5 separate regions of the Homo sapiens genome follow, and all the other regions are reported to be linked to region 1. Evidence: microRNA targets listed by miRTarBase, many of them from high-throughput screens and not tested one by one. Region 1 holds a microRNA gene; each other region holds the end of a gene's coding sequence.
What was found. The annotated mature microRNA hsa-miR-5087 reads GGGUUUGUAGCUUUGCUGGCAUG and lies in region 1 at 2,589-2,611, opposite strand. An mRNA with a match to its seed (bases 2 to 7 or 8) in the 3' UTR can be bound and repressed. Matches are read on the target gene's strand: a 7mer-m8 pairs with bases 2 to 8, a 7mer-A1 pairs with bases 2 to 7 and ends in A, and an 8mer does both.

Region 1 (4,587 bases):
ATGACAGTGAGAAAAACCTGACATAGGAAAACTATGACTGTGAAAGAAATCTGACCTAACTGACTGCATCTTGCTTCTAATCTCTGAGCTGCCCTTGTCCATTCCTGGGAATAGGCCAGGCTAACTATGAGAGGAGTTTAGTTTAGTCTAACTCTGAAACAAAGATGATTGTCGCTCCTGAGACAAACCCCTTCCTTTCTTGGGGATCAGACCTCCTTAGCAAAGCTAACAAATTAGGCACGAGATTGGAATTTATGGCTCAGGAGCCGTGCAGCCAGAAGTCACATGATTCCTAAGCTCCCCAATTGTGCCTATATATAGTATTATTAGTGTCAAACCTAATATTGGTGTTTAAGATATTTTTCAGACCCTGCCTTGTGATGGACTAGCTGGTACCACTCAGACTGGTAAACTGGCTCATCTGGTCCTGTGGCCCCATCCAGGGACTGACTCAGTGCAAGTAAACAAGCTCTTACACCCTGTGATTTCCAACCAATCAGCTTTGCACATTCCCTAGCCCCCTGCCTGCCAAACTATCCTTAAAAAACAAAAAACCAAAAACCAAAAACCAAAACCAAAACAAAACAAAAACCCTAGTCTCTGAATTTTGGGGGAGGCAGATTTGAGTAATAATAAACCCCTGTCCTGGTCCCTCAGCTGCATCTGCATTTGTTAAATTCTTTCTCTATTGTGGAAAGCCTGCTGTTCTCAGCTCCATTGGCTTATCTGGGCAATGGGCAGAATAAACTTACCAGGCAGTTACACTAATAAAAGAGAAACACAAATTGTAAGCATGCTTCAAAAGAAATGTTAAGTCTTTGTATTTCTTTTGAAGAAACACAAAAGGAGGAGGAATGATAAGACAGGCAATACACTGTCCTAAATATTTTCATGATTCTCCTGCCTCCTTCATATCCTTCTTATCCCAACAACTTCTCCCCAGAAACCTTCAACTTAAACATGGTCCTGCCAGAACTGGGTTTGTCCTTCCCTTAACATTTTCCTCTCACCTGCCCTACACCCCTTCCAAATCTAATCTGTTCATTCACTTCCAGGTCATTGAGGATTTTCCATTTAAAAATATAAAAAATTCATAAAGAGGAAGATAACTGGTCATCCATATTCACACCTCCTGGAATTAACTACTGTTAACATATCTACATATTTTTCTTCCGAATCATTTTTAAGCTATTGTCTTTTTTAAAAAAAATTTATACATGCTAAGCATAGACCGTACTAACAGTAGAGAAAATGTAAACATATGTAAAATTTTTGATCACCTTAAGTTCAAAAATAACTTCTCATAACATTCGGGCAACACTGGAGTCATGGTATTGTGTTATATCTACAGAGAGAAGAAAGTATATTTTAGCTAGACTGTTCCCCCCAGGCCCCACAAAAGAAAAAAGAAGAAAAAAAATAAAGAAGGATATATATGCCTGAAAAAATTATAAAATTATAAAAATATATAAAATATATATTTAATATATAAAATTATATAGTATATATAATTCTATATTTAAAAATATAAAAATATATAAAAACATATATGTATGCTTTTATAAAATTGAGCTTAGACTCTATTTTTATTTTACAAATATTCCACTTAATAGTGCATGAACTTAACTGCAGACAAAGAGACAGAAACAGAAATGAAGGAATTCCTGAACTCCCTAGCACAGTTAGAAAGACATTTGTCTAAACGACTCCTCTAAGGGCAAACATACATTAAATTAAGGAGAAGACATTAAGATTTGGAGTGGTTTTCTTATTCCTTTTTACAACCAAGTTAAGGTGTGAGTTGCCTATGGTACAATGCATCCATTTCAAGTTTGATGACTATTACTCTAAAAGGTCCTCTTGTGCCCTTTGCAGTCAGTCCCGCCCTCCCCCTGGCCCCAGCAATTAATGATGTATTTTCTGTCACTATACAGGTTAGTTTTACCTGTTCTAGAAATTCACCTTGATGGCGCCACACAGGATGCCCTCTTTTCATCACTCGGCATGATGTTTTTGAGGTAATCCATGCTATCTCATGTTTCTGTAATGTGTCCCATTTTATTGCTGGGTAGTTGGGGTAGATCGCCGACACATTCTGCCGACAAGTCAGACTGCGGTTCTGACCTGAAGGCCTCGGTGAACATAAGCAAGGGCACCTGGGCGCGGGGAGAGCCGTTCCCCTACAGAAAGCAAGCGTGTTGTGTCTACAACCGAACAGGGACACTGCTTTCATCCCAAAGAACAGCACCCGTCTGCCTAGAATTTCTACCTGGCTCTAGGAGGTGAGAACACATTCCCCGCTAGCACAGAAATCCTACAAACTTCTGTGGGGGCTGCGGTTAGAAGCACAGGCTGTGTGAAAGGTGACTCCGGGGGCTACGAAAAAACACGAAGGTTTTCACATAGGGTGAGAACCCAAGACACTGGAGACCATGAAGCAATCTTGAAAAAGCAGCCCCACGTGGAAAGGGAAGAGAAGAGCACTGGGGCCACTTAGCTTGTGTTAAGCAAGCTCATGATAGGGGCGGAGAGGACAGTAACACAATACTTTCTCTTTCTTATGCTTGCGACTGTAGGACAACACTTAACATGCCAGCAAAGCTACAAACCCGTAGAAAGCTAAGTAGAAACTAAGAGTAGCCCTTCCTGCAGAATTCACTTTTTGCACTGCAAGATTTCAGCGGAAAGCACTAACGCAGTTCTCCACTGTTATTGTGCAGCCAAATTTCTCCCATTTGGGTTAATCGCAGGATCAGCACGTCCACAGTGCAATGGAAAAGCAACGCCCTGGGAAAACAACCTTCATAACGTCCTCTCCGATGCCAGGTAATTAGGAGTTCACACGTTTCCGTCTTGCTACTGCTCCACACGCCTCACCCTTTTTACACACGGTCACTTGCCCCGCGCACCCCGGAGCCCTTCCAGCCTTGACACACAGCTGGGACTTTCAGGTCTGAACAGCGGTCCTGGACTTGCTCCCACAGCACGGGAACTCCTTCGTAGCGAAGCAGCCGGTGGCGAAGCAGCAGCCCCTGTGCTGCCTCATCTACATAGAAGTCGCCCTATCCGTGATGTCACTGACAGCGCCTTTCCCGTCCGGCTCTGCTTTTCCGCCCCACCTTCTGCCACTCAGCCGACCAACATGCTGCCAGAGACTGCGGGGACAGTGACGTCTGCCTTTCCTTCCTTTCCCTCCCTTCCCCGCCCCAATCTTTCCAAGGAAGCAGGTGTTTCTGTTGTAGTTTTTTGTTTTGAGCCGCAGTCTCGCTCTGTCGCCCAGGCTGGAGTGCAGTCGCATCATCTCTGCTTCCTGCAACCTCCGCCTCCAGGGTTGAAGCGATTCTCCTGCCTCAGGCTTCTGCGTAGCTGGGATTACAGGAGCACACCACCAAGCCCTGCTAATTTTTGTATTTTTAGTAGAGACGGGGTTTCACCATGTTGGCCAGGCTGATCTCGAACTCCTGACCTCAGGTGATCCGCCCGCCTCGGCCTCCCAAAGTGCTGGGATTACAGGCTGAGCCATCATGCCCGCCCAGAAGCCGGTTCTTAGCCTGTGTTGCCGATGACCTCTTTGGCAGACAGCTGGAGGCTGTCCACCCTTCTTCAAATAATGGTTTGTAATGCGCAGACTAAAACATGTAGGATTACACAAGAAACTAGTTCTCTTCCCATCGTTATTCTTCTGATGTAGCATTCTACTTGAAATTGGAAGCCGTTCAGTATCAGAGAGAAACCATATCTATGAAACTAGAGATGCTGCTCAGATGACTGCAAACCAGCCATCCTTACTTGTTTTACCATTAGTAGTGCTATAAAGACGGTGGTCCAATTTCATGAATCTTGTAGGATTTTTTCAAATACAGCAATGTACAAATATGCTGCCCCAGCAGAGCACACTGGACACTCAGGCATGGTGCTGGAGTTTGTCATCTCTTCCATGGCCTTCTGTAGACCGTAGCACTTACCTCATGTTAGCACTTTATATTCTGCAAAGAGAGAAACAAGTGGTCCAAATTTGGAGAAAAAAAATTGGGGGAAATTTTATTTGAGGTGCTTAACTGATTACTTTTAATTTGTAGAATACAATCCCAAACTCTGACAATACTCCACAGACTCCAAATCTATCAGGCAAGTTTTTCCTGTCCTTTGCTTTCATATAAATCAAATCATAAAGTGTGTAGTGGGTTTTGGGGGAGTATAACTGCGCAGTGGGTTCCTGTTGCCTGCTGCCTAGACAGAACCAATTTATCAAGACAGGGGAATTGCAATAAAGAAAGTTGTTTACCCAGAGCTGGCTGTGTGGGAGACCAGAGTTTTATTATTACTCAAATCAGTCTTCCTGAGCATTCTAGGACCAGAGTTTTTAGGGATAATTTGGTGGGTGGGGGACAGTGAGTTGGGAGTTCTGATTGGACAGGTCAGAGATGAACTCACAGGGAGCTAAAGCATGCTCTTGAGCTGGGTCAGTTCCTGGGTGGGGGCCACAGGATCAGATGAGCTGGTTTATCCATCTGGGTGGTGCCAGCTGATGCATCGAGTGCAGGGCTACAAAATATCTCACAAACCGATCTTAGGTTTTACAATGGT
Region 2 (4,587 bases), not on the chromosome of region 1:
AGCAGGATAGGAAGGACATTCTGATTGAGTGGAACCAATCAGATCTTGAAGGATGGATTGTACTTTTTTTCTTTTCTTTTTTTTTTTTTTTTTTTTTGAGACAGTCTTGCTTTGATCACCCAGGTACAATCTCGACTCACTGCAAATTCCACCTCCAGGTTCAAGGGATTCTCTGCCTCAGCCTCCCCAGTAGCTGGGATTATAGGTGCGTGCCACCAAGCCCGGTTAATTTTTGTATTTTTAGTAGAGATGGGGTTTCGCCATATTGGCCATGTTGGTCTCCAACTCCTGACCTCAGGTGATCCGCCCACCTCAGCTTCCCAAAGTGCTGGGATCACAGGCGTGAGCCACTGTGCCTGGCTGTGGATGGATTTTCTTTCTTTCCTTTTCGTTTCTTTTTTTTTTTTTTTTTTTTTTCAAGATGGAGTCTCACTCTGTCGCCAGGCTGGAGTGCAGTGGCGCGATCTCGGCTCATTGCAACCTCTGCCTCCCGGGTTGAAGTGTTTCTCCTGCCTCAGCCTCCCGAGTAGCTGGGACTACAGGCACACACCACCATGCCCAGCTAATTTTTGTATTTTTAGTGGAGACGGGGTTTCACCATGTTGGCCAGGATGATCTCGATCTCTTGACCTCGTGATCTGCCTGCCTCGGCCTCACAAAGTGCTCGGATTACAGGCATGAGCCACCGCGCATGGCCAATGGATTGTATTTCTAAAGGAAAAGATACATAGAAGGGAAGAATATTCATTAAGAAAACACAGGAGTGTGTAAATAATGTTGAGTTTGTCTGTATTGCCTAGAGCAGGTAAAAGATAAATGGAGGATCTTGGTTTCCAGGTTTAAAATGCTTAGAATATATGTAGTAGATAATAAGAGCAAAAGCACAGAGTTTGGAAATTGTAAACAGAGGCATGTTCACAGGCCAGCAAATCCATCAGTTTGACTGGAGCAGTGCCTTGGGGTATGAGTGGTGGCAGAAGGAGCAGGGTGAGTTGACTGGGGAAGTCAGTTAAGACCCAAAGGTGAAGGGTCTTGATGGCAGGCCAAGGACTTGGGGCTTTGTCCTGAAGACAGGGCTGATGCTAAGCTTAAAATACTTCCGGAGCTACTGCCCTGAGCCCAAGTGCTCCCCCATCCCTATTCCAGGACCCCTGGACTGGCTTCAGCAACGAAAGGGCTAAGTTTAGAAAGGATTAGAGATTAAGTATTTTGAGTATCACCCCTACCTGTAGGCCAGGAGGAGTCAGTGAGGGCTTTTTATCAAAGGGCAAATGGGAGGGGTTGAGACAGATCACGCTGGGAGCCCCTGTGTGTCTTGGGTAGTTTGAACTAGGGTGGAGGCTTCTGGGAATGTGGAAGAAAGGCGAGGTTTTACGGACATTGCAAACCACAAGCTGGACTTCGGGAGACGGGAGAGGGGGATGGGGGTGAAGTGAAGGCAACGATCAGACAGCTCTGAAATTTCAAATTTAAGAGGTCAGGAAAACAGTGGCACCATTAACAGAAATAGGCAAGTCGTGACGGCCTTTTTGTTTGCTTGATTTTTATTATTATTATTATTATTATTATTATTATTATTATTATACTTTAAGTTCTGGGATACATGTGCAGAACGTGCAGGTTTGTTACATAGGTATACATGTGCCATGGTGGTTTGCTGCACCCATCAACCCGTCATCTTGGAAAGGTTTTTTGTGAGCGTGGAAATAATTTAAAAATCCATTGTTGGCCAGCCGTGGTTGCTCACGCCTGTAATCCCAGCACTTTGGGAGGCCAAGGTGGGTGGATCACCTGAGGCCAGGAGTTCGAGACCAGCCTGGCCGAAATGGTGAAACCCTGGCTCTACTGAAAATACAAAAATTAGCTGGGCATGGTGGCATGTGCCTGTACTCCCAGCTACTCAGGAGGCTGAGGCAGGAGAATCACTTGAGCCTGGGAGGCAGAGGTTGCAGTGAACCGAGATTGCACCACTGCACTCCAGCCGACAGAGCAAGACTCTGACTCAAAAACAAACGAACAAACAAAAACATTGTTGATAGAGGGGCTATCTTTAAGGAGCTGACAAGCACCCACATGGAAATGTTCAGCAGATTGCTGGAAATGTGAGCCAGGAGCTTAAGAGAAAGGTTGGGACTGGAGCTCTAGATTTAGGACCCATCTCCGAGGAGCCAAAATGAGCCCAAAATGGATGAGATTCTTGAACAGCCACGTTGGAAGTGGTAGGTGAAGAACCAGCCCCGGAAAGGGTGATGGGGGATGCAGGAGAGCCCAGCTAGTGTGGGCTCACGGGGGCCCGAGAACTGTGAAGAAGACATTTGATTTCACCATGAGGTCATTGATGACCTTCCAGCAATGAGTTTCCATGGAGTTGGAGTAGGGGTGGCAGAAACCAGTTTTCAGGTGGGGGCGGGGCTACCCCAACCCATGCAGCACCTTTATGCAAAATTTTTTTTTAATGGTGACCCTTTATCAAGATGCTTACTTTCAACCATCAGGAAACTGTCATAATAAACTGATTTTATTAGAAAAAGGCACTTTAATGCCAACTGCTGGAAACACGCATAGTAAATACATTTGCACAACCAAACACAGTGCCCTCCAGGGGGCAGGGAGAAGAAGAGTAGGAGAGGGTGATAGTTGTTGGCTTAACAAAGAAGAGAAGAGCGAGAGCGCGGCCAGGGGAGGTAGTTAGGTCAAGTGGATGGTTCTGTACCAAGGACACAGCAAAGGTCCTCAGGCACTGATTCACATTACCCAAAGTCACCAGATAATAGAGTTGTTTCCGTGGCTGACATTTCTTAGCCTTGCCCTCAAACTTGGCAGGAGGGAGGCAAGCTCGTTTAAAGAAGGGAGAGGGGAGGAGATCCAGGCAATTGGCCTAGGGGTTGGCTTTGAGAGAGAATAGGTTGACCCTTCCTCGGAAAGAGGGAAGGGGGAAGCAGGGAGCCACGAAGAGAGAGAGGTGCCACGGGAACTCCTGGCTGCCGACTCCCGTCTTCTTGGTGAAGGAGTCAGGGTTAGGTGTGAAAGTGGGAGATGAGGGGCATTGGTACACCCAAGGAGGTCTGCTGCAGTCATCACAGAGGCAGGCTGGTCCGCCTTCGAGGTGAGTTGCAGGCAGGCTGAGCAGCAGAAACCATGTGGTAGGTGCCCATGCTTGAGCAGGAATGGGGGTGGACCCCATCTAGGTCGCTGCCGGACTAGCCGCAGTGATGCCTGACAGCTGGAAAATGTCAAAAAGTAATCAAGAGGGAGCCCAGGATCGGGGAAGTAGGCTGGGGTGTCAGCAAAGGCTATTGTCTGGCGGGGGGCCGGTATCACACAAACAGCCCAAGCCCTAGGCACAAATACTCAATGAATTCAGCTCTGGGGGCTTTGTGGCTAGCTCTGAGGCTGGAGGGCACTTCATCCCCGTCTAAATCCTTCAGCAAAGCACTTTGGGGTGGCCCAAGATTCCAGCCTGACTGCAAGGTGACTGTGGTTGCTAACACGGCAAACTCCAGGAAGAGTACCTTGGTCCAGCCAGTGAGGGCTGCTCCCAGAGCTGACTTCCCTTCCCTCCCTTCGTGGTTTTACCCCACTCGGCCTTTGTGTCCCTGAGGAGCGCATCTTCCCCAATGTGCATGCGCATCAAAGCGTTCCTACTCTGCACTCGTTCCAGCTCTACAACATCTCCAGATTCGGAGGATCAAACTTGTACCCCATAGTCTCAGAGCAACTGAATCTCGGCATGAACAAAGGGAATTAGAGAATGCTTTCCCTTAAAAACAAAATCCCTATCCCTGTGGCTGATCCACGGAGACATACACACACCCTTGGAGACAAGACCTCACAGCTACAGCCCTGTCCTCCCCAAAGAAACTAAGATACAGACCAACAAGTACACACAAGTACATACAGGGATATTCACATATAGGGTAGTAAATTCCCTGTGTAGGGAATGCAGCCAGTGAGATAGAGCCAGGTAGAAGGGCTCTTCTCACAAAGCTGCTGCACAAACCCTGGCCACAAACTTCTGCCTGGCTCAAGGCTTTTTCCCTCCATCACCAAGTCAGCCCGTTATGCTGCCAAAAGCATATGCCCTAGTGCTCTTGAAGGCCATAGTCTGATGCCAGGGATGCTTAAGCTGGGCACTGTTTGGCCACAGTGACACCAGGCAGGGCCGGGGGACTTGGGGTCAAGTGTATTGACATCCCACTGAAATGCAGGGGCAGGTGTGCTACTGAAGTCGGTCCCTATGAAAATGCTGCTCAATTTTGCCTGGTGGGTCACACTTGCCCTGACCCCTTTGCTTATATGTCATGGGGCTCCATCTTAATGAGGGAAGTAGGGTTGAATGGGGAGAAAGGGGCTGGGGTGGGGGATCTTGTCAGAAGGCTCCCAGATGTGGTCACACTAGGCTCAGCCATCAGCAGGGACCCTGAGCCTGAGGAGAGCTCAAGTTCAGCCACTGGGGTCAGCCCAACAGTGGGGCGGCTGGGAGGAGACAAAGTCTGGTTGCCCAGAAGGCTCGGATTGTGGGAACCCCTGGAAACCACCTGGGTTGGAAGTGGCTGAAGATGAGCCTGATCTCTCAGGAGCTCCCTC
Region 3 (4,587 bases), not on the chromosome of region 1:
GAGGGTTTTCTCCCCCGTCCCGGAGAACTATTTGTTAAATATTTTACCAGCACACCCCTGGGAAGAGGAAGAATAAGGACAGAGGCCCTGAGGCAGGAGCAGGCTTGTTCTGTTGAGGAAGTCAAGGCAGTCAGGATGGTGGAACAGAATGAGAGGGAAATTGACAGGAGATGAGGTCAGAGGTAGCTAGGAGCAAGATCAGTAGGCCAGGTAAATACGTTGGACTTTGGTCTACGTGAAATGGGGGCCATTGAAAGGTTTTAAACAGACGAGTGAAGTGACACTGTCTGACTTAAGCTTTGAACAGGACCGCAGAAGAGAGGAATCCAGAAGACCAGTTGGGAGACTTGAGCAAAATTGTAGGAAAGAGGTAACAGGCCAGGTGCAGTGGTTCATGCCTGTAATCCCAGCACTTTGGGAGGCGGAGGCAGGTGGATCACTTGAGGTCAGGAGTTCAAGACCAGCCTGGCCAACATGGCGAAACCCCATCTCTACTTAGCCAGGTGTAGTGGCACACACCTGTAATCCCAGCTACTTGGAAGGCTAAGGCATGACAATCGCTTGAACCCAAGAGGCAGAGGTTGCAGTGAGCCAAGATTGCACCACTGCACTGCAGCCTGGGCAACAAGAGCAAAACTCTGTCTCAAAAAAAAAAAAAAGTAATAATGGCTTAGGGGTAGAGGTAGTAAGAAAAGCACGTTGATTTCTTCATTTTTTTCAGAGATTGTGAAGATTAAATAACATTTAAAACATGCTTAGCCTAAGGTCTTTCATACAGGAGGCCCTTAATAAATGGTAGCTGTCATATCGTATTATTATTGACAGAAGGCCCATACTGGAGTTGGGGAGGGTTGTTCATATCTAATTAAGAAGGCAAGTAATTTTAGTACAAGTGGTAAGTGCTATGTTTGAAACAAGTGGGAACGCTGAGGAGAAACACTTAGCCCAGCTAGGGTAGGAAGGTCCAGGAAGGGTGTTAGAGCAAAAGGGACAGCTTTAGCAAAGGCATGGGGATGGGGAATTAGAAGGAAAGTGGAACTGCTTAAAGTGTCCACACCTCCCGATTCAGGTGATAATAAGATCACAGCTTCATCCTTAGCATTATTAGCAAAATAATCCGTGATCTAAAGCAACAGCGATGATTTTATTACTCTATGTGTTAAGTAAATCACCTAGCAGGCTGGGGAGGGTGATGTTCCAATTCCAGTTCACTTGGTAACTTTATGTATTACACAGAGCCTTTGATTCTGATCAGCCAGATCTAAAAATGTAAGCTGGTAAGAAATGTTTAAAACTTGCTATGGAGAAAGGAGTTCTTAATCTGGGGCCCAAGCATGGCCTTTGGGAGGTCTGTGAACCCTTTGAAGATACTTGCAGAATTGTGTGTGTGCACATGAATTTTGGGGGTAGAAGCGGGACACAGGGAGTGTTCATAGCTTTTATCAGATTCCCAAAGAGTTTTGCAGCCCAGAGAATATTTAAAACACTGCTACTGAGATGAATATTAGAGGGTAAAGTAAAATCAGTCTAGAAGGACAGGCATGTTTTTGTCTGCCATTCCATCTATCATTAAAATAATTTGATTAAATCATATTCTAAATCACATGAAATCAGTTAAAACATTTCACTTAAAAGTGATTACTTATAAAAAGGCTTTTGTCACTTTTATTCAAATATGAACTGTCATTTTGGGCCCAGTGAATATTCATTCCAACTTAAAATTTCAGCTGTGCCAAACTCTGGGATGGTAAATGAGCTATAGTATAATCAAAAGTGCTTCCAGGCCAAATTCGCTCTGTTTATCATGCTGGGATCAAACCTCCTATTCTTCCTTTTGAAAATGTTCTCTGACTCTGATTTTGTTGTTTAGTTTTTATTGATTCCCTACAATCCCCTCATGTTATTCTGCCAAGTCTCCAAAATGACAAATATTCCCTAAGGCTTCTTCAAAGCCAAAGAAAAAGGAATGTTTACTGAAATTTTATTTTTAAAGGAGGATTAATAGAATTTAACTTTCTGGCTATCTTTTGGAGACTCATGTGATTCAGAAATTTGCCGCCTTCTAGTCACACATAGATGGTGAAAATTTACTCACCTGACTACTTCTGTCTGCCAATGGGAAATGGGCTGTTAATAGTTTCCATTTCTTCAATGCTATGGTCCAAACGCCTTGTTAAGTGCATTATGTATATTATCTCACTGAATCCTTGCAACACCTACTGAGATAGAGATTTGATTTTCATTTTATAGATACTCAACCTAGGCTCTGAGATATTAGATTACTATCTTGCCCAAGATCACACAGCCAGTGAACAGCAGAACCAATAGGTAGAAAAATGGAAAGTAAGATGTCCCATGAAGGACGAGCGAGCTGCCCAAAGAAAAGCACCCCTTTTCCTTGTACTATTGCCATTTTTCATTGTGTGGCATTTTTCAGTGCTGCTGTATCAGGCATTGTGTCAGAACAATGGATGAGAAAAATATCTAGGAATTGATGATTGAAAAGGGTTGTGGGAAATGAATTCATCTAGTTAATTAAACTATCTCAATATCTTTTAAGAATGGTGACGGAGGAAATCAGAGTTAAATTTGAGTACTTACCATGAGCAAAGCATTAATGTGAGGTGCTTTACTTACATTACTGCAATGAATTCTCCTATTAAGGGTCCTGAGGAAGGCATTTACTATCCCTGTTTTACACATAGGGAAGCAGAGGCTCAGAGGAGTTGCGAGAGTTTCCCAAAGTTACATAGATAGGAAGATGGTATGATACGACCAGGATCAGCCTTCTACTATATCATATGTAAAATTTGCTTCAAAAGCTATTTACTAAAATTTAAACTATGTGGGGGCCAGCCATCATATCATTAAATTCTCTATACTCCTCAGAACATAATATAGTACCTGGTACCTAGTAGGTACTCAAGATAATGTTTCTAGGTTGATCACCCATCACAGTGGGTTAAAAAATGGAATATCAAAGGCACAAAGATGTATCTTATTTCCAAATACTAAAAAAGAACTACCTTCACATTCCTTACAGGTTATACTGTTCCTTAGAAGACTTATAGAAAATCTTTTTAATAACCCCCTATGTATAGTTCAGAGGTTAAAAACCTGTACATATTATACAAAGTTTCCAATAAATGCACCTTGTGTATTATAACTGCATGGTACTGACATCTTCAAGATGGGAACCATGAATAGATTTGTCTAGGTAGGGGAGAAACAGCTTGGTATTTTAGAAATACGTATGATATACAACATAGTCAAAATGCAACAACTCCAAATCACTGGAAGGTGTATTAGAAAATACTCAGGCACATGTGTAAATGCTTTAACATGGCCTGGCCCTCTTCATGGTCCATCTGTGTATTTTTTGGTTTGTGGCTGACACCTCCTGCCTCAACACACCCAATCTTCTTAAGTGTGTCCAGAGTTGTAAAGGGCTGTCTGTCAAGGCTTTCCTGATGATGGTGTTGCTCTAATATTCCAGTGTCACCGTCTTGGTTTTGAGATATTCATTTAGAGCTTCCTCACCTAGGGAAGAGAAAAGCAGTTGACAGACCACATTCAGAGGCAGACATGTGATGTCTTCAGACCTTCAGACATAGGTATACGTAGGTGTCCAGGTCACTAAGTAAATAGAATGTGGCCTAAGCCAGTGCTTCTCACACTTTGAAGTTCATACTAACCATCTGAAGACTCTGTTAAGTTGCAGATCCTGATCTGATTAAGTCTGGTGTGGGCCCAGAGGTTTTGTGTTGCTAACCATTCCCTGATGATGCTGATGCTAGTGGTCCATGGACCACACTTTGAATAGTAACAGCCCAGACCAGCTACCAGGCCTTCTAAGGAGCAGAGAGTGTTGCCTGGTCAGCTTCAAACCAAAACCCTTCTCTTTTATTTCCCTACTTGATGACAGACTCTGCCTTTTTGTCCATTTAAACTAAACAGAAGTAACCAGGATACTGTCCTCTGGATTATATTAATTAAAGCAGAACTGAGCACAGGAAAGTTTGAAATCATTTGGTTTAACCTTATTTTAAAGATAAGGAAAATTCAGTTTATATTGTTTGTTAGAAACACAGGGAAACCTGTCTAGGCAAAAATAAATAGGTCTGCCTTTCTTTGACTGTTTCTATTTTGAGCCAGTACTGTCATCAATCTCTACAGAGGTTAAAGGGCACTGAATACCATGGGAAAACTAATGAGTGCGTGATTCTGGAAGCTGAGCTAAAACAAGGGCTGTCAACTTTGTCCGCATGTTAGAATCACTCAGGGAGCTTTTAAGACTCCTGACCCCACATCACACCCCAGATCAATTAGATCAGTATCTGTATTTTTTGAAGCTCCCAGGTGATTTGAATCCACTGTGCAGCTAAGGTTGACAACCACTGGGCTAAGGGGTTTTAAAATTGGGGGAGGAAGAAACTATTAGAAAAACTGTAGTATTTTATAGTAAAACAGACCTGGAGCTGGTCAAATACACTCTCTCAAAAGATGGGTGAAACAGGGATGCCTCACTTTCTAATAATAAATTCCCTAAGAAAGTCTCCTACAGTGATTTGGATTCAGGCATGAAAA
Region 4 (4,587 bases), not on the chromosome of region 1:
GTATAAAATGAGATACTATACAAAAGACAAAAACAAAAACAAAACAACAACAACAAAAAAAAACACTTTGGAAAGTAATAAAAGCTATACAAATGCTCATATCTTATTTTTATTCTTTGTCTACTTCCTAGGGGAAGAGTAATCTAAAAAACACTGCAATGGCCTATGTTCTAGGTTTCATGGGAAGGCTGACGTATTTTGATGTGTGTATACTATCCATATACTGTGCACTCCTAAGGACCAATAATGATTGAGGTAGAGTATCTGCAACGATGTAGGGGGTCACAAAGGAATCGCTTTTACAAATGCAGAGAGCTATAAGTAGTGCCTCAAGCAATTTCAAAATGTGGAGGCACAGTAAGCCTCACTCTGCCTGCATTCTAGGTGGCCTTCGTGATCCACCCCTTGAATGAGGGCTTTGAGGAGGGGGCGGGTTGCCTTTGCTGCTTTCAGATCCTGGGGAGCCAAAGCCTCCCCTGACTCGTTGGTCTGAAATTGCTTTCGTGGTCTGCCAGGGAGAATCCTGCCAGGAAGAGCCAACCTACTTGGGGTTGGGGTTGGCTGTTCCAGCTGTTTACCAATTGCCTCTCACTTGTAAAGTGTAGCTTTAATTATAGTTTTGCCAGAATTCATTTTAGGAATGGCCACTAACAATGATTTACTTGGGGAAACCTGTAAGCAACTGTGTCAAGCCACGTGCAGTGAAACCTGAATTAACTGAAATCTCATTAACTAGAATACATATTTCCTGCTCACCTCATTAAAAATGGGAGAACAAAGAACATAACACATGAACTGAGTTCCTATTACATGTCAGACACTTCACTACGCACTGGAACTACATACAGTGCAAAGAATGGACAGGCATTCTAGGAACTGACTGTCTTCCTAAATGGAAATCTGCTGTTTAATTCCAGTCAACTAGCAGGGGCTCCAAGACTTGCTGTTAAGCCAGACAGTAAATCAAGTCACTGTTCTTTTAAGATTGTTTCCTTTGGCCCGGTTTCATGGGCCTTATGTTGCAGAAACCTCTATGGACTTCCTCTTCAGGATTTGCTTCCAAGCAGGATGTTTTGCCAGCTGCCCCGAGTCCCCAGTGCAATAGCTGCGGCAATCAGTTTGGTGACTAACAGCAGGCTCTCCATTTAAATCATAAACTACATGGGTGAGTGGGGAAAAGTCTTCTCTATATTTTATATTCCCTGATCCAAACAAACCAAATGTAAAAGGGCATTTATGAGACAACCGGGATGTTTCAAACACTGACTAGACATTTCATGTTAATGAATTATTGTTCATTTTGTAGGTGTGATAATGGTGGGGTTGTGGTTATGTTTTTTTAAAGAATCATTATCTCTTGGAAATATATACTAAAGTATTTACAGATAAAATGATATAGTTTTGCTTTATAATAATTCAGCAGGTCTGTAGTAATTGATGAAACAAGATTAGGCATATGTTTATGGTTGCCTGGGGGCTGAACTGTATTATCCTCTTATTTTGCTCATGTTTGAAAGTTTCCACGGTAAAGTTTAAAAAAAATAATAATAACCCTTCATCGGGCGCGGTGGCTCACGCCTGTAATCTCAGCACTTTGGGAGGCCAAGGTAGGCAGATCACCTGAGGTCAGGAGTTTGAGACCAGCCTGGGCCAACGTGGTGAAACCCGGTCTCTGCTAAAAATACAAAAATTAGCCAGGAATGGTGGCACATGCCTATAATCCCAGCTACTTGGGAGGCTGAGGCATGAGAATTGCTTGAACCCAGGAGGCGGAGGTTGCAGGGAGCTGAGGTTGTGCCACTGCACTCCAGCCTCGGTGACAGAGTGAGACTCCGTCTCAAAAAAAGAAACAAACAAACAAAAAAAACCCTAATTATGTTAAATTAAAAATGTTTGTATTTCCTTTCCATCCACTACCTGAGTCTAGTAGAGGAGATAGAAGGTCCTTAATCCCTGCTTTCAGTCTCCCTATAAACTATGTGAAACTTTATAAACTTCTATTAACACAACATCTAGCACTCAGGAATCCTTACCTGCTGATCTCCTTATAAGAGGTTTTCATGAAGCCAGTACTTGTAGGATTAAATGTAAGGAATTCTCTATAATTTCTAAGATCTCTTCATTTTCCTCCGCTTTTATTATGGGTTTTTTTTTTTTGTTTTTTTTTTTGTTTGTTTGTTTGTTTGTTTTTTTGAGACGGAGTTTCGCTCTTATTGCCCAGGCTGGAGTGCAAAGGTGCGATCTCGGCTCACTGCAACCTCCGCCTCCCAGGTTCAAGCAATTCTCCTGCCTCAGCCTCCCGAGTAGCTGGGATTACAGGCATGCACCACCACGCCCGGCTAATTTTGTATTTTTAGTAGAGACAGGATTTCTCCATGTTGGTCAGGCTGGTCTCGAACTCCCGACCTCAGGTGATCCGCCCGCCTCGGCCTCCCAAAGTGCTAAGATTACAGGCGTGAGCCACTGCTCTCAGCCTTATTATGGTTTTGAGGGGTACAGTCAAAGGAAATTTGAGGACTTGAACCCCTCAGATATGAAACTGCCACCAGCGGGAAACAGAGAAGTGAGTTTCCATTGACTCTGGACATTCTCAAACCTGATGCAGGGGGATGGGAGAGGGTTGATGCTGACTGTGACATTGCAGGACGGAGCTTGTGAAACCCAGTTTCTCTCATCACCACGGTTTCATTAATTTTGAAAATAATGGTTATAGCTCCTTTTGTTTTTGAGATGGAGTTTCGCTCTTGTTGCCCAGGCTAGAGTACAATGGTGCAATCTCGGCTCACTGCAACCTCCGCCTCCCAGGTTCAAGCGATTCTCCTGTGTCAGCCTCCAGAGTAGCTGGGATTACAGGCCTGTGCCACCATGTCCGGCTAATTTTTTGTATTTTTAGTAGAGATGGAGCTTCACCGTGTTAGCCAGGATGGTCTCAATCTTCTGACCTCAGGTGATCTGCCCTCCTCGGCCTACCAAAGTGCTGGGATTACAGGTCTGTGAGCCACTGCGTCCGGCCCGATTATGGCTCTTTAAGAAAAAAACTTCCCACACTGAAACCTCAAATACTGATCACAGGATCCACCTGTGTTACCCAGCTGTTCTAGCAGCAAAAGTCTGAAAACGACCCCTCACTTTAATCAGGCAGGCAGGCAGGCATTCCACATGTACACCTGAAACCACACCAGACTATTTCTGCATATTATAAGTCACGAGAGAAAACCAGCTAGACCAATGAAGCAGCTTCTTCTACGATTAGATGCTTGTGTTGGGGGTGCGGGATTGGGGGAGATATGTTCTAGAAGCCACTGCCAGTTCTATTTAGAGTTAATCAAGCTTACCAGGACCCTGGGTCTCATGCAGCATGCAGCAAACAGCAGAGTTAACTGTAAAACAGTAAGAGCTGATGAAGATGGAGTGAGCATGAGGGGAAATCAAATATTATGACTTGACACAAACAATGAAGGGTTAGAGGTCAAAGGTGATTAGGAGTAGCAGGAAGGGGAAGTGGGAAGGGTGGACTGGTAGGAACCCCTGAAACACTGATACTCTTTTTTTTTTTTTTTTGAGTCAGGGTCTCTCTCTGTTGCCCAGACTGGAGTGCAGTGGCGCAATCATGGCTCACTGCAGCCTCAACCTCCCGGGTTCAAGCAGTTCTCCCACCTCAGTCTCCTGAGTAGCTGGGATTATAGGCAAGTGCCACCAGGCCCAGCTAATGTTTATTTATTTATTTTTTTTGTAGAGACAAAGGTCTCACTATGTTGCCCAGGCTGATCTCAAACTCCTGGACTCAAGCAATCCTTCGCCTTGGCCTCCCAAAGTATTGGGATTACAAGCATGAGCCACCACGGCTGGCCAGTACTTTCTTAATCTCTTTAGGGGCAGCTAAAGGAAATTCTGAATATGTGACTCTTAGATCCAACCACCATCTCTCAAGAAGAAATACTACTACCACCATTTCTGCCCTCAAAACTCACTACCGTGACTATGGGAGGAGGGTAGCACAGGTCTAACGGTGGCTCTTCCAGAAGTTAACAAATTGCTCATGAAATTACATAAGAAGCCAAGATTCAGGGCCACTTCTGCATCTGGAAGTACAGAAGAAGACAGGTCATTCTGTTAGGCCCTTATTGCTAATATAAGGTGCCACATGCCAGCAGGGTTTTCACCCATTTCAGAATTGGAAAGGGGCACTGTCACCAACCCCAAATATTCCTGAAGAGTAGAGAGGGGTATCTCCCTGTTGGGGTCTCCTGCCTGGGGTGGGAGAAGTCAGTCAGTATGAGGCAACAAGGGGAAAGCTTGATGTAAGAAGAACTTTTACTGAACATCTGAATAGGGAATATTTATAGTTTCATTGTAGCCTGAACAAACCAATTCCTAACTCCCACAAGCAGGCTATGAAACTGCCCCAGGTACTGAGTTAACAAATACCACAGGACTATGAAGGCAGCAGGTTACAGCTGGATGACAAATTTAGATTTTTCTGATCTTAAAAATAGGAATTCATTCCTGCTGGTGCAACTAATACACCATGACAGATAAGTTAATACAGTACAGGGTGTGTCCAAAGAGACTTTTTTCTGGCTAGTT
Region 5 (3,000 bases), not on the chromosome of region 1:
AAGGCGAAGAGCTCCTTCCTGCTAGACTTTCTTCGATATTTCAGTTGTAATAAGCAGATTTAACTAGCTTTTGGAAAGTTGCTCACTATCATCATAGTATCTTATGCCTTCACTTCTCTGTAGTTGAAGCTCTTGCTGCTGCCTTGTCATTCTTTATTTATGCTGACTTGTCCAAACACAAAAGGCTGCTGAAGTCCTGTCTTAGTGAGTTTCTGTGATCCACACTGTGCTTAAAAAGCACATCTTAGGTCCTTTAAAGGTGGTTAAATCGCTCTCCTCATGGCTTACTTTTCCACACTGTTCACAAGAGCTAAGCTAATACAACTTATAAACAGGTCACATACACAGATTTCACCTGCTTATAGGTTGTAAACATCAACTTACTGTAAATGTTTTCACTATAATACTAGTTCCAGAACATAGAAAGTTGGTTAACAGTACAATTAACCTCATGCCATTAAAGGATACTGTCAAGGTTGTGTCAAACAATTTCACAAACATAAAACAGGAAATGTTAATCTCCCCCATTCCTTTAAACTTTATTTATATGAATAAAAGAACTTGAGACAATTTAGCTCAATTTTAATGTTTCCCAAGCATTATTTTGACCAGGTACCCAGGTTTAAGTTATGAACATTGACAGTGTCCATTATATAACCACACTTGAAGTTATTTAGGACTTAACCATTTTCTAATATTAGCCTATTTTCTACACTGCTTTTCACATATATGCCCATTAACAAATGGAATGTCTGTTACATTTATTGGTTTGTGAATGTTTCTGGAAAACTGCAGTATGTGTGAAGACCAATTTCCATGCTGGCATTGCATGCATCCAAATATTAATGCACAGAGGCACAGAATTAGAGCAACAAGAGAGCATATTCAAACACTAGCACACCCCATTCCCCTTTTTATTGCTTGTTTGCTTAGTACTTCTTAAAACAAAAGACTTGAATTCAACGTTCAACTACCAAAGAGAGTAACAGCAGGGCACATACTCAGGGCTCGAATGAAACTGTAAGCACTAGCTGGAGCAAAACAGTAGACATTGGTTTATATTAATATATGTATATATGACCTTATTAACTAAAACTCTTCTCAACCAGGGCCTTCCAAACAAATTGGTAACAACATGATTTATGTTGAAATATACACAAGAAATAACAGTGTGTTCTTTGGGAATTTAAGAACTCAGACTATCCAAATTTGAATTCAGGTCTGTAGGAAGTGAGAAGCCTGTACTAAGCAACTGTGCTACATTTCTGCTGCAGTTAGGTTATTTTGGACAATTATACCTGAACTATCCTTGGTTTCATCCAGCAAAATGTATAGAATACAAACAGGAAAGCATGCCAGCCAGTTAGGGGTTTAATAACACATGATTTTTATTCTCTTGCTCTGAAAACTTGTATCAAAAAAAAGAATTTAAAGTAACTCAAGATTTATGGGCCTCTTGTGCTTTAAATAAGAAAAAAAAGGTACCCACTAATTTGCTCAGATATAGCAGGCTTAATGGTTCTATATTTTCAAAAGTTTTTAAGAATGGTTTCTAACGTAGGAGAGGGAAAACATCCACCATCCCTTTTCAGAATTTAAATGGAGGGCAGTAAACATTCTTTACACCCAAAACCTATGGCAGCAGTTCAAATTTGACCAAGGTAAATGTAGAATAGAGATGTTCTAAACACAGCTAGGACTCAGCAAGTCTAACACACTAAAATCATATGATTACATTTTAAAAGAAAATGCACAAAAACCAAATAGAAATTTTGAGATTTTTTTTCATTTGAAGGTAATCTTAATGCTATTAAATTCACAAATGCTAATTTAAATACCCAATCCTATTTATCTAAAACACACATTGCAAACACACAAATTATCTATTCTCTCCACATGTCAGCGCCCATTCATATCATGGTTTGGAAATGGGGAGAATAGATTCCCCTTAAACTGCAAGTCAGCAGGTGTTTCTTTACAGTTAACTTTAGCAAAATTCATACAAAATAGTAATTAACAATGATCTTCTTTACTTGTTAACTCACAAGGAAACACCTTCGAAACTGCATTTTGTTAAAGTTTCTGTACTAAAATGTAGAAAAACTGAACTACACAAATATTGAAAAGTTAAAAATTCCTTAATTTTTTATTCCTGGTACCACTACCACAATTTACAGGGCAATATACCTGATGTAATGAAAAGAAAAAGAAAAAGACAAAGCTACAACAGATAAAAGACCTCAGGAATGTACATCTAATTGACACTACATTGCATTAATCAATAGCTGCACTTTTTGCAAACTGTGGCTATGACAGTCCTGAACAAGAAGGGTTTCCTGTTTAAGCTGCAGTAACTTTTCTGACTATGGATCATCGTTCCTTCTGTGGCAGATTTTTACAGTTCCTCTAATGCATTTGGGACGACTGTCTCAAAGTAACCTGCAGCTTTCCTGACAACTCCTCGCTCTCTCTCCTGCTAAGAACTGTAGCCTGTTGAATAATACAGGATAAAAAAATTATTACACTCAGTGAACAGTTCCACATATTCTTTTATCATCATAATAAAAATTTAAAGATACCTACCCTTTTCTGCTGTTTTTAGAACCTTCTGCTACCATATCCACCACTTCCACCACCAGATCCATAACCACCTGAAAATATACATAGTATTTTAAAAGAAGTATGCACATTTTTTAAATTAAAAAGGCTCTAAAGAATTGATTTAAGAAAGTACTTACCACCATAGGGACTGCCCGAGCTTCTTCCACCAAAACTGCCCCCTTTCATGGGTCCATAATTTGATTGCTGTTGTCCACTATAATTTCCAAAATCATTATAGTTCCCACCACCACCATAGTTACCTGAAATCAGAAAGGTTTTATGTGTGGTTTACCTACACAATCATCATTTTCCCCTTTTAACGTATGTAACTATTATCTTTTGAGAATTATGGTAGCATGCTTATACACATCACTGTGGTAGCACCACTTGGGGTAACTG

Region 2: the mRNA of ELF4 is a reported target of hsa-miR-5087. Seed matches in the 3' UTR shown: 7mer-A1 at 1,651-1,657 and 7mer-m8 at 1,620-1,626.
Region 3: the mRNA of ALDH1L2 is a reported target of hsa-miR-5087. Seed matches in the 3' UTR shown: 8mer at 3,381-3,388.
Region 4: miRTarBase lists SEPTIN6 as a target of hsa-miR-5087. The part of its 3' UTR that is shown has no 7-base or 8-base seed match.
Region 5: miRTarBase lists HNRNPA3 as a target of hsa-miR-5087. Seed matches in the 3' UTR shown: 7mer-A1 at 1,919-1,925 and 8mer at 766-773.

The regions. Positions count from the first base shown.
Region 1 is chr1:148,331,934-148,336,520 of GRCh38, forward strand. It overlaps MIR5087 (microRNA 5087), which reads right to left and starts at 2,621; the gene lies at 2,546-2,621. It overlaps LOC124904404 (a long non-coding RNA gene), which reads left to right and starts at 1,932. Exons shown (of 3, transcript XR_007066576.1): 1 at 1,932-2,018; 2 at 2,721-2,826. LOC124904402 (a long non-coding RNA gene) reads right to left here. Exons shown (of 3, transcript XR_007066574.1): 3 at 3,481-3,986. It also overlaps the pseudogene RNVU1-21. RefSeq lists enhancers at 2,359-2,438, 2,789-3,088, 2,804-3,313, 3,314-3,821, 3,369-3,478.
Region 2 is chrX:130,062,429-130,067,015 of GRCh38, forward strand. ELF4 (E74 like ETS transcription factor 4) reads right to left here. Exons shown (of 9, transcript NM_001421.4): 9 at 1,527-4,587. The coding sequence ends at 4,293. Among named protein-coding and RNA genes, the nearest start is that of ELF4, 46 kb to the right of the region's middle.
Region 3 is chr12:105,020,940-105,025,526 of GRCh38, forward strand. ALDH1L2 (aldehyde dehydrogenase 1 family member L2) reads right to left here. Exons shown (of 23, transcript NM_001034173.4): 23 at 1-3,540. The coding sequence ends at 3,485. Among named protein-coding and RNA genes, the nearest start is that of NOPCHAP1, 37 kb to the left of the region's middle.
Region 4 is chrX:119,622,000-119,626,586 of GRCh38, forward strand. It overlaps SEPTIN6 (septin 6), which reads right to left. Exons shown (of 11, transcript NM_145799.4): 10 at 3,336-3,380. The coding sequence ends at 3,377. Among named protein-coding and RNA genes, the nearest start is that of NKRF, 18 kb to the left of the region's middle.
Region 5 is chr2:177,218,898-177,221,897 of GRCh38, reverse strand. HNRNPA3 (heterogeneous nuclear ribonucleoprotein A3) reads right to left here. Exons shown (of 11, transcript NM_194247.4): 9 at 2,739-2,861; 10 at 2,584-2,651; 11 at 1-2,490. The coding sequence ends at 2,599. Among named protein-coding and RNA genes, the nearest start is that of HNRNPA3, 7.6 kb to the right of the region's middle.